Regions from separate parts of the Homo sapiens genome. Here region 2 is linked to region 1. The links come from fine-mapping of genetic effects on gene expression. A gene starts in region 1. The other region holds a variant in brackets. All regions are shown on one strand. Distances are between the middles of the regions. Region 1 holds the start of MIDEAS (mitotic deacetylase associated SANT domain protein). Region 2 overlaps MIDEAS (mitotic deacetylase associated SANT domain protein).

The links. PIP is the estimated chance that this variant, and not a neighbour inherited with it, causes the effect.
Region 2: its variant is fine-mapped to the expression of MIDEAS in cerebellum (GTEx, PIP above 0.99). The same link has a PIP of 0.9 or more in cerebellar hemisphere.

What each region holds. Positions count from the first base shown.
Region 1 is chr14:73,758,027-73,763,496 of GRCh38, reverse strand. MIDEAS (mitotic deacetylase associated SANT domain protein) reads left to right here and starts at 3,194. Exons shown (of 13, transcript NM_001367710.1): 1 at 3,194-3,734. It overlaps MIR4505 (microRNA 4505), which reads right to left and starts at 4,750; the gene lies at 4,678-4,750. RefSeq lists enhancers at 926-1,225, 827-1,348, 1,349-1,871, 2,787-3,116, 5,177-5,226 and silencers at 3,537-3,776, 3,907-4,056, 4,417-4,526.
Region 2 is chr14:73,715,942-73,721,165 of GRCh38, reverse strand. MIDEAS (mitotic deacetylase associated SANT domain protein) reads left to right here. Exons shown (of 13, transcript NM_001367710.1): 12 at 1,665-1,861; 13 at 2,158-5,224. The coding sequence ends at 2,323. Among named protein-coding and RNA genes, the nearest start is that of PNMA1, 4.2 kb to the right of the region's middle. RefSeq lists an enhancer at 1,741-2,351. The variant T/C (reference allele first, on the strand shown) is at 2,952.

The DNA.
Region 1 (5,470 bases):
CTTTTAAATAGTGATGATGGCTGCAGACTTATTGGAGGAAGGTGGCTGGGAGGTGAGAACCTGGCTTCCTTGGAAGCTTTCCCCCAACTTCGTAACAGCTTTATTGAGATATACTTCACACACCATAAAATTCACCCTTGGAAGATTTTCTTTTTTCTTGAGACAACGTCTCACCCTGTCACCCAGGATGGAGTGCAGTGGCGTGAACACAACTCACTGCAGCCTTGACCTCATGGGCTCAAGCAATCCTCCTACCTCAGCCTCTTGAGTAGCTGGGACCACAGGCATGTGCCACCACACCTGGCTAATTTTTGTATTTTTTTGTAGAGACTGGGTTTTGCCACGTTGCCTAGGCTGGTCTCTAAACTCCTGCGCTCAAGCACTCCTCCTGCCTCAGCCTTCTAAAGTTCTGGGGTTACAGGTGTGAACCACTGTGCCTGGCCTCATCCTTGGAAGATTTTAATGGTCTAGATACTGCTGATGAAACACAGGGCAGTGACAGACCGCTCTGAGTGGAGTCCAGAGAGCTGATGTGGCCCTAGGAAGCCTCTCAAATTTGCCATATTCTACCTTTATTGGGAATCAGAGTTTAGGATTCTGTCTAGGGTGCTTTATTTCCTGGAGTGTTTCTCTCTTGTCACACTCCCTGGTAACTGGAGCTCTGTACTCCTTTTTCGTGCAGTTTGTAAAGAGGGTTGAGGGTGGAGAAAATCCAACTCTGTGGATAAGGTCTCTGGAACACCTCCCCATTTCCCTGAAAGGTCAACCTTCTTGGTTGCCCCAGAGACTTGTAGCAGGGGCTGGAGCTTCTAAAACCAAAACTTTCACTTCACACGTCAGTGATTCTGCACCGTCATATCTGCAGCAAAACTGACCTCCAGGGCTTTCCCGGAAGCGCTGCAGCTTTCTTTACATAGCCTCATCTGCCCGCCTTTTTGAGGTAGACTTCTCCTGCCAAGGGGGGGCTATTTGGTATAGTCTTGAGCCCTCCTCCCCTGCACACATGTGTGCCCCTTTTCTTCTCTCTCCTTTCTTAGGTGGCCTGAATTTGGAAGTTTAGCTGTAGTGAAGGGCGGTGCCGCTCCAAGGTGAGCAAGGCTCCTTCAGGGCCACTGACTTCTCTGTTTCCCCTGCCACCTGCCTCCACTATGTATGCTGCTTCCTGGGCCACTCCTTTGGAGTGGCTTTCACCTGTTCCCTGAAGGCTGGGCCCTGGCTCCATGATGGCAGGCTCTTCTAGCAATGTGCTTCCCAGTCAGGTTTTCTGGTTGGTTGGGAACATCCCTGGGCTGGTCTGCACAAGCTCTTAGGGGCTCACTCTGGGCTGGCCTAAGGCCAACTGCAGGGGCTGGGCTCTCAGGGGAGGTGAGGATGGCCACAGGTCTGCAGAGGAACTTGGCAGCAGTGGGCACTGGAGACCAAATGGCTTTGCTTTTGCTTCCCTCACTTGGATGTGTTGTCAGTGGGAGGGAAGAAATCAGGCAAATGAAAAAAGTAAAAAGGCTCTACCCTGATCCTTTGCCAGGAGCCCTGAGAGTCTGGCCTCTGCTTGGGGGTCTGCAGGCCTGAGCACTGCAGTTCCTCAATTGCTCACTGCCTTCCTCTGGGGGAGGAGCAGAGAGGTCACAGATGCTTGGCTTGCCCTGTGACCTGGTGCAATTCACTTAACCTCTCTGAACCTCAGTACATCCACAGATTGAGAGAGATAAAACTCACATGCAGGGCTCTTCAGGAGACTGTATGGAGAAGTGCTCTGAGAGCTGCCAGGAACAATACTGTCATCACAGATGCTAAATCGGGGAGCCCGGGCTTTTTTTTGTAGAAGGTGGTTTCCCTAGCTCCTCTATTCACTTACTGTAATCACAGAATCATGGATCTTGAACTGGAAGGGATCTCAAGAGGTCCTCTGGTCCAGTCCTGTGGCATAATTACCTGTATTTTGTAGATAAGATTGTTTTAAGTGTTCCTTATTTTGACATATCTATCATAACATGGTGCAAATAAGCCCTTCTCCTCTTGGGGAGGTGTGACTTCCAGGTGTACATGTACGCAGGTGCTCCAGCCAGCAAAGAGGTGGAAGAGGACAGGAAAGCCATGCCCCCTTAGAAGCAAGTGCAGGTTTGGCAGGATTTCTGGGCAGAAGATCCAAGTTTTGCCTGTGTCCTCCACACCCCACCCTGGCCCTGTAGGCCCAGTGAGTGTGTGAGAATCATATTCTGCTGCCCCTCCCTCCTCTTCTCCCTGAGAAAGTGAGGGATGCACCTGGTTCTCAGGTCTGGCCACAGTGTTTTGAAAAGTGGCTGCCAGGACACATGGTATTCTTCGGTGGTTTTTCTTTCAAAGGAAAATCTCCTTGTGACCCATCTCCTTGAAAAACAGCCACCGCCACCACCGCCGCCGCCACCACCACCACTGCACCACCACCAAAAAACTTGGAAGGAAGAATAGGACACACTCCCCTGAACTTTCCCCTGGCCCTAGAGCCCCATTGAATGTGGGGGCCAGAACCAACCTCTTGAGCTGCAAAAATGTTTTCCATCTTCCCACCAGTCAGGCAAGGAGGCATCAAGGCCTGGACCTGAGAATTGATCAGGGGGATATTTAGGGAAGACAGGGGAAAATGTGAGTATGGAGTGAAAAGCCGCTCAACTCTGGCCTGAGTTGCTAGATTTAAATCCAGGAGATTTTCCTCACCTAAGCGATGGAGATGGTGGGTCCTTTCTAGGGACTGAGGCCAGTTTCTCAATAACCTTTACACGCACCAGGACGCTTTTGAGCCAGAAAGTGAAACTCGGAGAGTCTGTTAATAAAATGCCATGGAGAGGATTGTGCATGATTTACCGTATCCAAAACCAGAGAGAGTTTCTTTGTGGAAGAAAGCGACTTGTGCCTTCCCCAGCATCACACACACACTTTCCTGGCAGGCTCAATGGGTTTCCAAACATTTCGTCACCGTCTCCTCCTGACCTTGGTGTGAAAGGAACTAGCAGCGTGGCCCGCCAGCAAAGCCATCGGGGGCGCCAGCCTGGGCGGGGGATGGGGACGGCGACCGACTCGTGAGTGGAGGTGAGGTCTGCTGGAAATCCCCAGCCCCGGCCGCCGCCTGAGGTTTAAGGACGCCTTCCCCGGCCTTATTTGGTCGCAGGAAGTGGGCGGCGCCGGGCCTGCTGGCTGAGGCCGCCCCGAGACAGTTGTGCTGATGAAGTGGTAGAGCTGGTTCCTGCTCGCCGCGGTGCCGCGCGCGCCGGCCGGCCGCTGGGCGCTCCGCGCTCCCAGCCTCGAGTTGTGCAATCCTTTGTAGCACGCCAGAGTCCTCCTCCTCCGCTGTTGCCTCTCGCCCTCTCTCTTTTTTTTTTTTTCAAGCTGTGAGCTCAACCGATGAGTCAGAGCCGTGCAATCCTGACACTGCATCGCAGGACTGGGGGTGACACGGAGGGAGGCAGAGCGCTCGCGAGGCGGACGGCACGGGTGCGGGGCGCGCCGAGGCTCCTGCATCGCAAGCGGGGGGTGACAGCCCGCGCGTCCCGCCCGGGCCCTGCCAGCAAACTTCTCAGCCTCGGGAGGCGCGGGCTGGCGGAAGCCCCGCGAGCGCCGCGGGGAGGCGACGGCGCCTGTTTGTTTTTAAAATCGGGAGTGCGTGCAGGCGGCTGGAGTCCCGGAGGCGACCGAAGGCGGCGACCCGCGGCGGAAGGGGGACAGCCGAGCCCGGAGCCCGGAGCCCGGGCAAGAGCTGGGTAAGTGGGGCTGCCTGGCCGGCGGCCGAGGCCTGCACGCGGCGGGGCCGGCGAGGGGACCCCAGGCGGCGCGCGAGCTGTGGCTGCTCGCACGGCGGGTTGCAGCTCTGCAGGCGCGGCCCGGAGAGGGGGCCGCGGGGGCCGCTGCGCTCGAACTTCTGCGGCCTGGGCGGCGGTGGAGCGGGCGCGTGTGGCCGTGCGGGGGCCGCCTGCAGCCCGCCGCCCCCTCCCCCGCGGTCCGCGCCCTCGGCCCGCAGCTGCGTGTGCAGCGCAGCCCCGCGGTGTTTGTGCAGCTACGCAGCTTGCGCGCGGCCCCCGCCCACCCGGGCGCGGCCCCGCCAGGAAAGCCCTCCCCACCCGGCGGCCCGCGGCGGCTCGGGAATCCGGCTGCTCCTCCTCCGCTGGAGAGAAACGTGGTGTCCGTGGGGACCGGCTGACGTGACGGAGCCCAGGCCCGGAAGGCGCGGCGAGGGGCTAGCCAGCTGAGGGAACTTGGCGCGGGAGCCCCTTCCCCTGCCAGCGTGCACGGGAAAGTGGGCCTGGACGCGGCGTCCACGCCAGGAGTTTGGGGGACAGAGGTGCAGGGGCGTTGGGGAACTGGGGCAAATGCAGTCAGCAGAGGCCTAGGCTGGAGCGCTTCGCGCGGGCGGGCGCACCTCAGACCTGTCATCCTCCCGCGCGCCCCCGCACGCCCGCGCCGCCGCAGCCCTCCCAGCCCGCGCGGTGCCTCGCGGGGAGCTGTGTTCCCTGGTGCCTGGCGGCAGCGCCGAAACCCGGGATTCGGCCGGGCCCTGCATATGGCCGGCTTGGTGGAGCTGGTCACGTCGCCTCCCAAGTCGCACATGCAGGACCATGTGTGTCAGGTTGCCCCCAAGGCCTCTGGGTAAAGGTCTAGGGGAGGAAGGGGAACTTCGTGTGCCCTGGGGCCTTCAGGCTTCAGCCCCAAGGCGGGCCGACATGGAGGAGGTACCTGCCACAGAAAGTGGAGGCCGGGTGTCCGTCCCAGCCCAGCCTCCAGCGAGAGCTGGTGAGAAGATGAAAGGGGAAGTTATATGCCCCATTTAAAACTTTGTTGGTCACAACTACGGTGGCTGCTTCCTGTTTCCACCATCCCACGTGGGACCTGTGTGCCAGCCTGTGGAGCCTCGCGCGGGGGGCGGTGGGATGGGGGAAGAGAGGCTGGCCACGGAGGCCCCGGTGGCCCGCGTATGCAGGGGATCCCTGTTGGCAGCTGCGGCTGGGGGAGGGAGGGGATGTCTGGCTTGCTCCAGCAGGGGGAGCCTGGCCAGGTGATCTGGGATCTTCTTGTTCCTGTAGCTTCAGGGTTGAGACTGAAGGCCTAGTGAAGGTGGACCGAGAAGCCAGTCCTCCCTAGGGGGCCTCAGCTGAGGGGAGAAACCACCTGTCTTGCTCTAGAGCCTCCCACCAAAGGTGTGGCACACGCCCCTTTTGGATCAGAGAAATGCACCCTTTCCTTGGGTGTTAAGTGGCTTCAGAACCCAGGGAAAAGGAGAAGCCTTCCCGGGTTGAGAATTCGTAGGTCTTCCTTTTCCAACTGCTCTGGACAGTGAATAATAGGAGCGTAAACATTCAATTACTGTGATAAACCATCTCGTTGCATGGCCCTGGTCCAGTCTCCACTCTAATTGGATTGGCCTCTGGCTGGTTACTCTGGTCCGTGTAGCTCCCGGGGGGACAAGGGGGTGAAGAACCTGGAGGATGCCCCCAGGTCATAC
Region 2 (5,224 bases), 42 kb after region 1:
TGTGCTGTTAACTCATTTAATCCTCACTACCCTATGTGGTTAGGTATTACTGTTATTCCCATTTTATAGATGGGGAAATTGTGGCCCAAGATAACACAGCTAGTAGGCAGCCTGAATCCAGAGTCTGCGATTAATTTTTATACTCTACTGCTTCTGTATCTGAGATTCAGAGGGAAAAAGGTTTTGTGAAAACCCAGTAGGTATGTGGGTCACTGAGGGAGCATTGGTGGTTTGCAGACAGGGCTCCCCTAAGAGAGCCAGAGTCCCTGACAAGAATGAGACTGAGCTGAGACCATGGGAATGACAATCATAGGCCCTCAGGCATGATCTCTGCAAAGTGCTTTCATTTCCATTATCTCATTAGTTCCTCACACTGCAGAGTTAACCTCTACTCTGCAGATGGGGGAAAGCAGTTCAGAGATGCTAAGTGACTTGCCCCAGGTCCTTGGACTCCTAGTGCAGTGCTCTGTCCACCATATCACAGGCCAAGAAACAAGACTACTGGCCATAGTTGCTCCTTGCCAGGGAGAGTTCTCCCAGAAAGGGGTAAGGAGGGGAAGGGGTTTATTGGGGAGCTGCTGCTTTTTTAGAGTCTTTTTTTTTAGAAATGTATGTAGTAGGCCGGGCGCAGTGGCTCACACCTGTAATCCCAGCACTTTGGGAGGCCAAGGTGAGTGGATCACCTGAGGTCAGGAGTCGAGACCAGCCTGGCCAACAAGGTGAAACCTCATCTCTATTAAAAATACAAAAACTAGCTGGGCATGGTGGTGCACGCCTGTAATCCCAGCTACTCCAGAGGCTGAGGCAGGAGAATCACTTGAACCCAGGAGGTGGAGGAGGCGGAGGTTGCAGTGAGCCAAGATCATGCCACTGCACTCCAGCCTGGGTGACATAGCAAGACTCCATCTCAAAAAAAAAAAAAAAAAAAAGGAATGTGTGTAGTACACTCATGCTTACAGAGCTCCCATAAACTGTAAACACACGGCTGTGTGCCCACTTCTGAGCCTCGACCACCTGCACCAAGAGCTGTGCTCTGTGTAGCGCTCTACAGAGTTCTGTTGACTTTTGTGAACTTTCCCATGAGGGTGCCACTTCTGATGGCCACCCGGGGCTTCCCCAGCCGAGGTCACCTCTGCTCCCTCTGCTCTGCACTCTGACCCCTGCCCTTGCCCTGTTTGGTGTCCCTGCAGTGCGCTGTCCTGAAGTAGCTACCTGCGCATCTGTCCCTTCCACCAGATCCTCAGCTCTGAGGGCAGGGATGCCTGTGTCAACCTCTTTGTCCCTAGCATCTGGCCCATCACAGGGGCCTGAATCTCATTTATAGAACAGGGCATGAGCGGACTAAATGACAGAAAACATCAACAGGTAGGTGCTTCATTAACCCAGAGACCAAGATCCCCTGTCAGGCGCATCAAGGCCTCTAGCAGCTCGGGCTGCCCCACAGAATTACTCTAGCAGCAACTTTGTAAACGATAGAGCTGACCAGAGATGCAGAGTTGGAGGAGGCAATGGTCGTCATATCCCTGGAAGGACCCAAGTGCATGCTAGGTGACTGTTTGGCAGGAATATATATGACTTTTCAGGCCCCCGGTTCCCTGCGATTTTAGAATTCCAGATCTGCGCTTGCTCAGATCACTCAACTCTCCTTGTTTGATTTTCTTCAGGCCAGTGACATCCTCATCCTCCGGAGCCACGAGTCCAACGCCCCTGGGTCTGCCGGTGGCCAGGCCTCGGAGAAGCCAAGGGAAGGGACAGGGAAGTCACGAAGGGCACTACCTTTTTCAGAGAAGAAGAAAAAAACAGAGACATTCAGTAAGACCCAGAATCAGGAGAACACTTTCCCCTGTAAAAAATGTGGCAGGTAAGGTGGGCAGCGCTGTCCCCGCTGGGACCCCCGCGGGCTGGTGCGCGGAGGGGGCGGGGGTGGGGTGGAGGGGAGGGGGAAGAGGTACAGGCGGTGTCCGCCTCGTTTCTGGTTGGCTCAGCGGGTTTCTAGGGCTGTGACGTCATGGGGCAGCTTTCGGAAAATGACGCGAGCTGGCCGGCCGCGGCTGTGCAGCGTGGGGGTGAAGGTGAAGGCTGGGGCTCCTCGCGCACCCGCGCTGGGGGCCCCCGGGTGGGCTAGGCCGGTTCTGAGCAACCCCCACCCGGCTGCAGGGTGTTTTACAAGGTGAAGAGCCGCAGTGCGCATATGAAGAGCCACGCAGAGCAGGAGAAGAAGGCTGCAGCGCTGAGGCTGAAGGAGAAAGAGGCCGCTGCTGCCGCCGCCGCCGCCCACCAGCAGGCCCTGCGGGAGGAGAGCGGTGCGGGCGACAAGGGCTGAGCGCGGGAGCCAGGCTGGCCCAGTCCTGGGCCTCGGCCCTTCCCGCACCGCCGCCAGCGCCCGCAGACACCCTGGCATCTCAAGAGGGAGTGAGGAGAGGATTGCAGGGACTTTTCCCTGCGAAACAAATGAGACAATGACATAAACGGCTCTTTTATTTATGAAGGCCCTGGGAGCAGCGTTAAGGGCTCCAGGATCCAGCTCTCTTTGCATTTGGTCTGTCGGAAGCTGTCCTCGTGCTTTCCTGGACCGGGAGAGTCCCGGTCCCCTCGGGAGGGACTCCACCGCCTCTCACACTCCGATTTCTGCTGCTCTGCTGCCCCGCAGTCTTTTCCCTTTATTTGCTTCCCCCTCCTCCCCTCGGCCTCCAGGAAGCCACCGTGGCCGGCCAAGCACAAGCTCACCCACTTTGGAGCAGCATTTCTCCTCCCCAGAGGACCTCGAAGGCTGCAACGGCCCTGCCCCAAGCCCCAGAAAAAGAAACTCTTGGAGGGAGTCTGCGGGCTTCTCTGAGAAGGGGCGCAGCCTGACACCTGTGCTGTCCCTGCAGTCTCTAGGCCTGTCTGAGCTGCTCCCGTGACCGTGTCCTGAGTGGCCACCTCCTCCTTGGGAGGGAGGCCGCGGCAGG[T/C]ACTCTCCCTTTGCTGCTTGCTGGCGGCCTTGCTAGGGCTAGAAAGTTTTCTCAGCGTTGGGGGAGGGGCTAGCGTTCTTGTCCAAAGCACTCATCCTGCTGCAGGGAAGGGAGCTGTACGGAGGCTGGAAGCTGCAGGGTTAGGCCCGAGAGAGCTTTTGACAAGCCTGGCTCTTCCTGCTTCCCACCTTTTTGGCTGAATACCTTTGGGTCCTGGAGGCTGCCAAGGGCGCTTCGCCTTGAGCAGGTCCCGGAGAGGCTCAGCCTGCCCCTCCTGGGGCCAGCCTCCTTGCCTCTGCTCTGACCTCAGCAGCTACACCTAACCCCACCGCACCCTACCCAGTGTCGATATCCACAACCCAGCCCCCAGGCCTGCACTTTGGAGATTTCTGGATCCTTCCCTGGGAGGGAGAGGTCTCCTAACTCGATTGGACAGGAGCCTTCATTCCTTGACTCGTGTCATTTGGGAGCTATTTATTTATTCTTAGTATTTAATTTTTAACATCCTCTCAGGGACCAGGGGCCTCCTGCTTTTCAGAGGCCCGAGTGCATTTATCCCAAAACGAGGCATCTTGACATCCCCTATCCCCACCCCCTAAATTCCCAAGGCCCTAAGGTCCCTCACCTGGTTGCTCTGGAAGCTCTTGCTGATAGGAATGATAGCAACACTGAAAGAGCGTGGGAAGGTGGAGGGTGTCACCAGACCCACACAGAGCAAGGGAGATTAAGGCAGTTCTTGCTGCCCCTTCTCTGGCTGTGCTTTGCCTGAGGGAAGAGTTGGCAAGAGGCCAGAATTCTAGTTTGGTTTATGGGGCCTGGATTCTGGCTTGAAGAAGCCATATTTGGCATGGGTGAAGTGAAAGGGCCAGGAGGTTCTGGAGGCCCCTTCACTTCCAGTCCCATAGCGGGGCTCAGCTATTTTTCTGATCTTATTCAACTTTAGTTGTGCAAAAGAAATTCTAAGTGAATGCGCGTATGACAGGTCAACGTATTAGGAAGGAGCCAGAAAGTATTCATACTGCTACTCCTTATGAGATAGCCAAGAAGCATCATGTCAGTAACTGGGAGTGGAGAGGGAGTTTTGTTTTGAAACTATGCAGGTATTTTTCAGCATCCATTTGTACATTAGTATGGTTCTACAGGACCCCAGCTGTGGAAGTAACAAATTTCTTCTCCCTCCAGACTCTTGGATGACTACCTAGATCCCCAGCTTACCGGTTAGTTTCCTCCACAGGCTTCCATGAGCTCAGTGTCCCAAGACAGCAAAAATCTGGTATACCCTGTAGAAGCAGGGGGGTAGCAAATTTAGGCTCTCTTCGAAATTACTTGTACAATACGAGTGCCTTCGCAGCTTAGCCCCAAAGTGCTACTTATGTTTCCCAAGGTCTTTTCTATTCAAATCATATTTGGTTTCAGGCCCCTTTATGGGCATACGGTAACAGAAACCTCCATCATTCATATGAGACCCTTTTGTCAGTGGTAACATCTTGTACTTGGAAAAAAAATTTTTTTTTTTTTTTTTTTTTTTTTTTGAGACAGAGTCTCATTCTGTCGCCCAGGCTGGAGTGCAGTGGTGTGATCTTGGCTCACTGCAACCTCCGCCTCTTGGGTTAAAAGAATTCTCCTGCCTCAGCCTCCTGAGTAGCTGGGATTATAGGCACACACCACCACACCCAGCTAATCTTTTTGTATTTTTTTTTTTAGTAGAGACAGGGTTTCGCCATGTCGGCCAGGCTGGTCTTGAACTCCTGACCTCAGGTGGTCCACCCGCCTCGGCCTCCCAAAGTGCTGGCATTACAGGCGTGAACCACCGTGCCTGGCCGGAAGTCTTTAAAAAATAAAGTGATTCTACTCTTCTAAGCTTACAGAGACCAGACCAGGTGAATGTAACTGGGGAAAATCAAGATGGTACCTCTCTGCATTATCCCGCCAGACACTGTATTTTATGCATTCATGTCTAGGATACAGTGTGAAAATTAAAAAGTTTAGAGGGCAGATGCAATTGTGGCAAGTGACCTGCCAATAAAGCAGGTGCAGCTATAGAAGCTGGCATAGGTATATCCTTAATGGTGCTTTCTCCCTGGGCTTGTCTTTTTGTTGTTTTTTTCCCCCTATATTCAGAGCTCCTTGAGAAGTGATAAACACCTCCAGCTTTCTAACATCCTCCCCACACCATCTCACCATATCCATCTCCCAGCATCCATCTGCATTCAGCTAAGGGCGGGAAACTGACCTAGTGCCTGTGTTGCAGACCATTTCTGAGGTCTCCACCA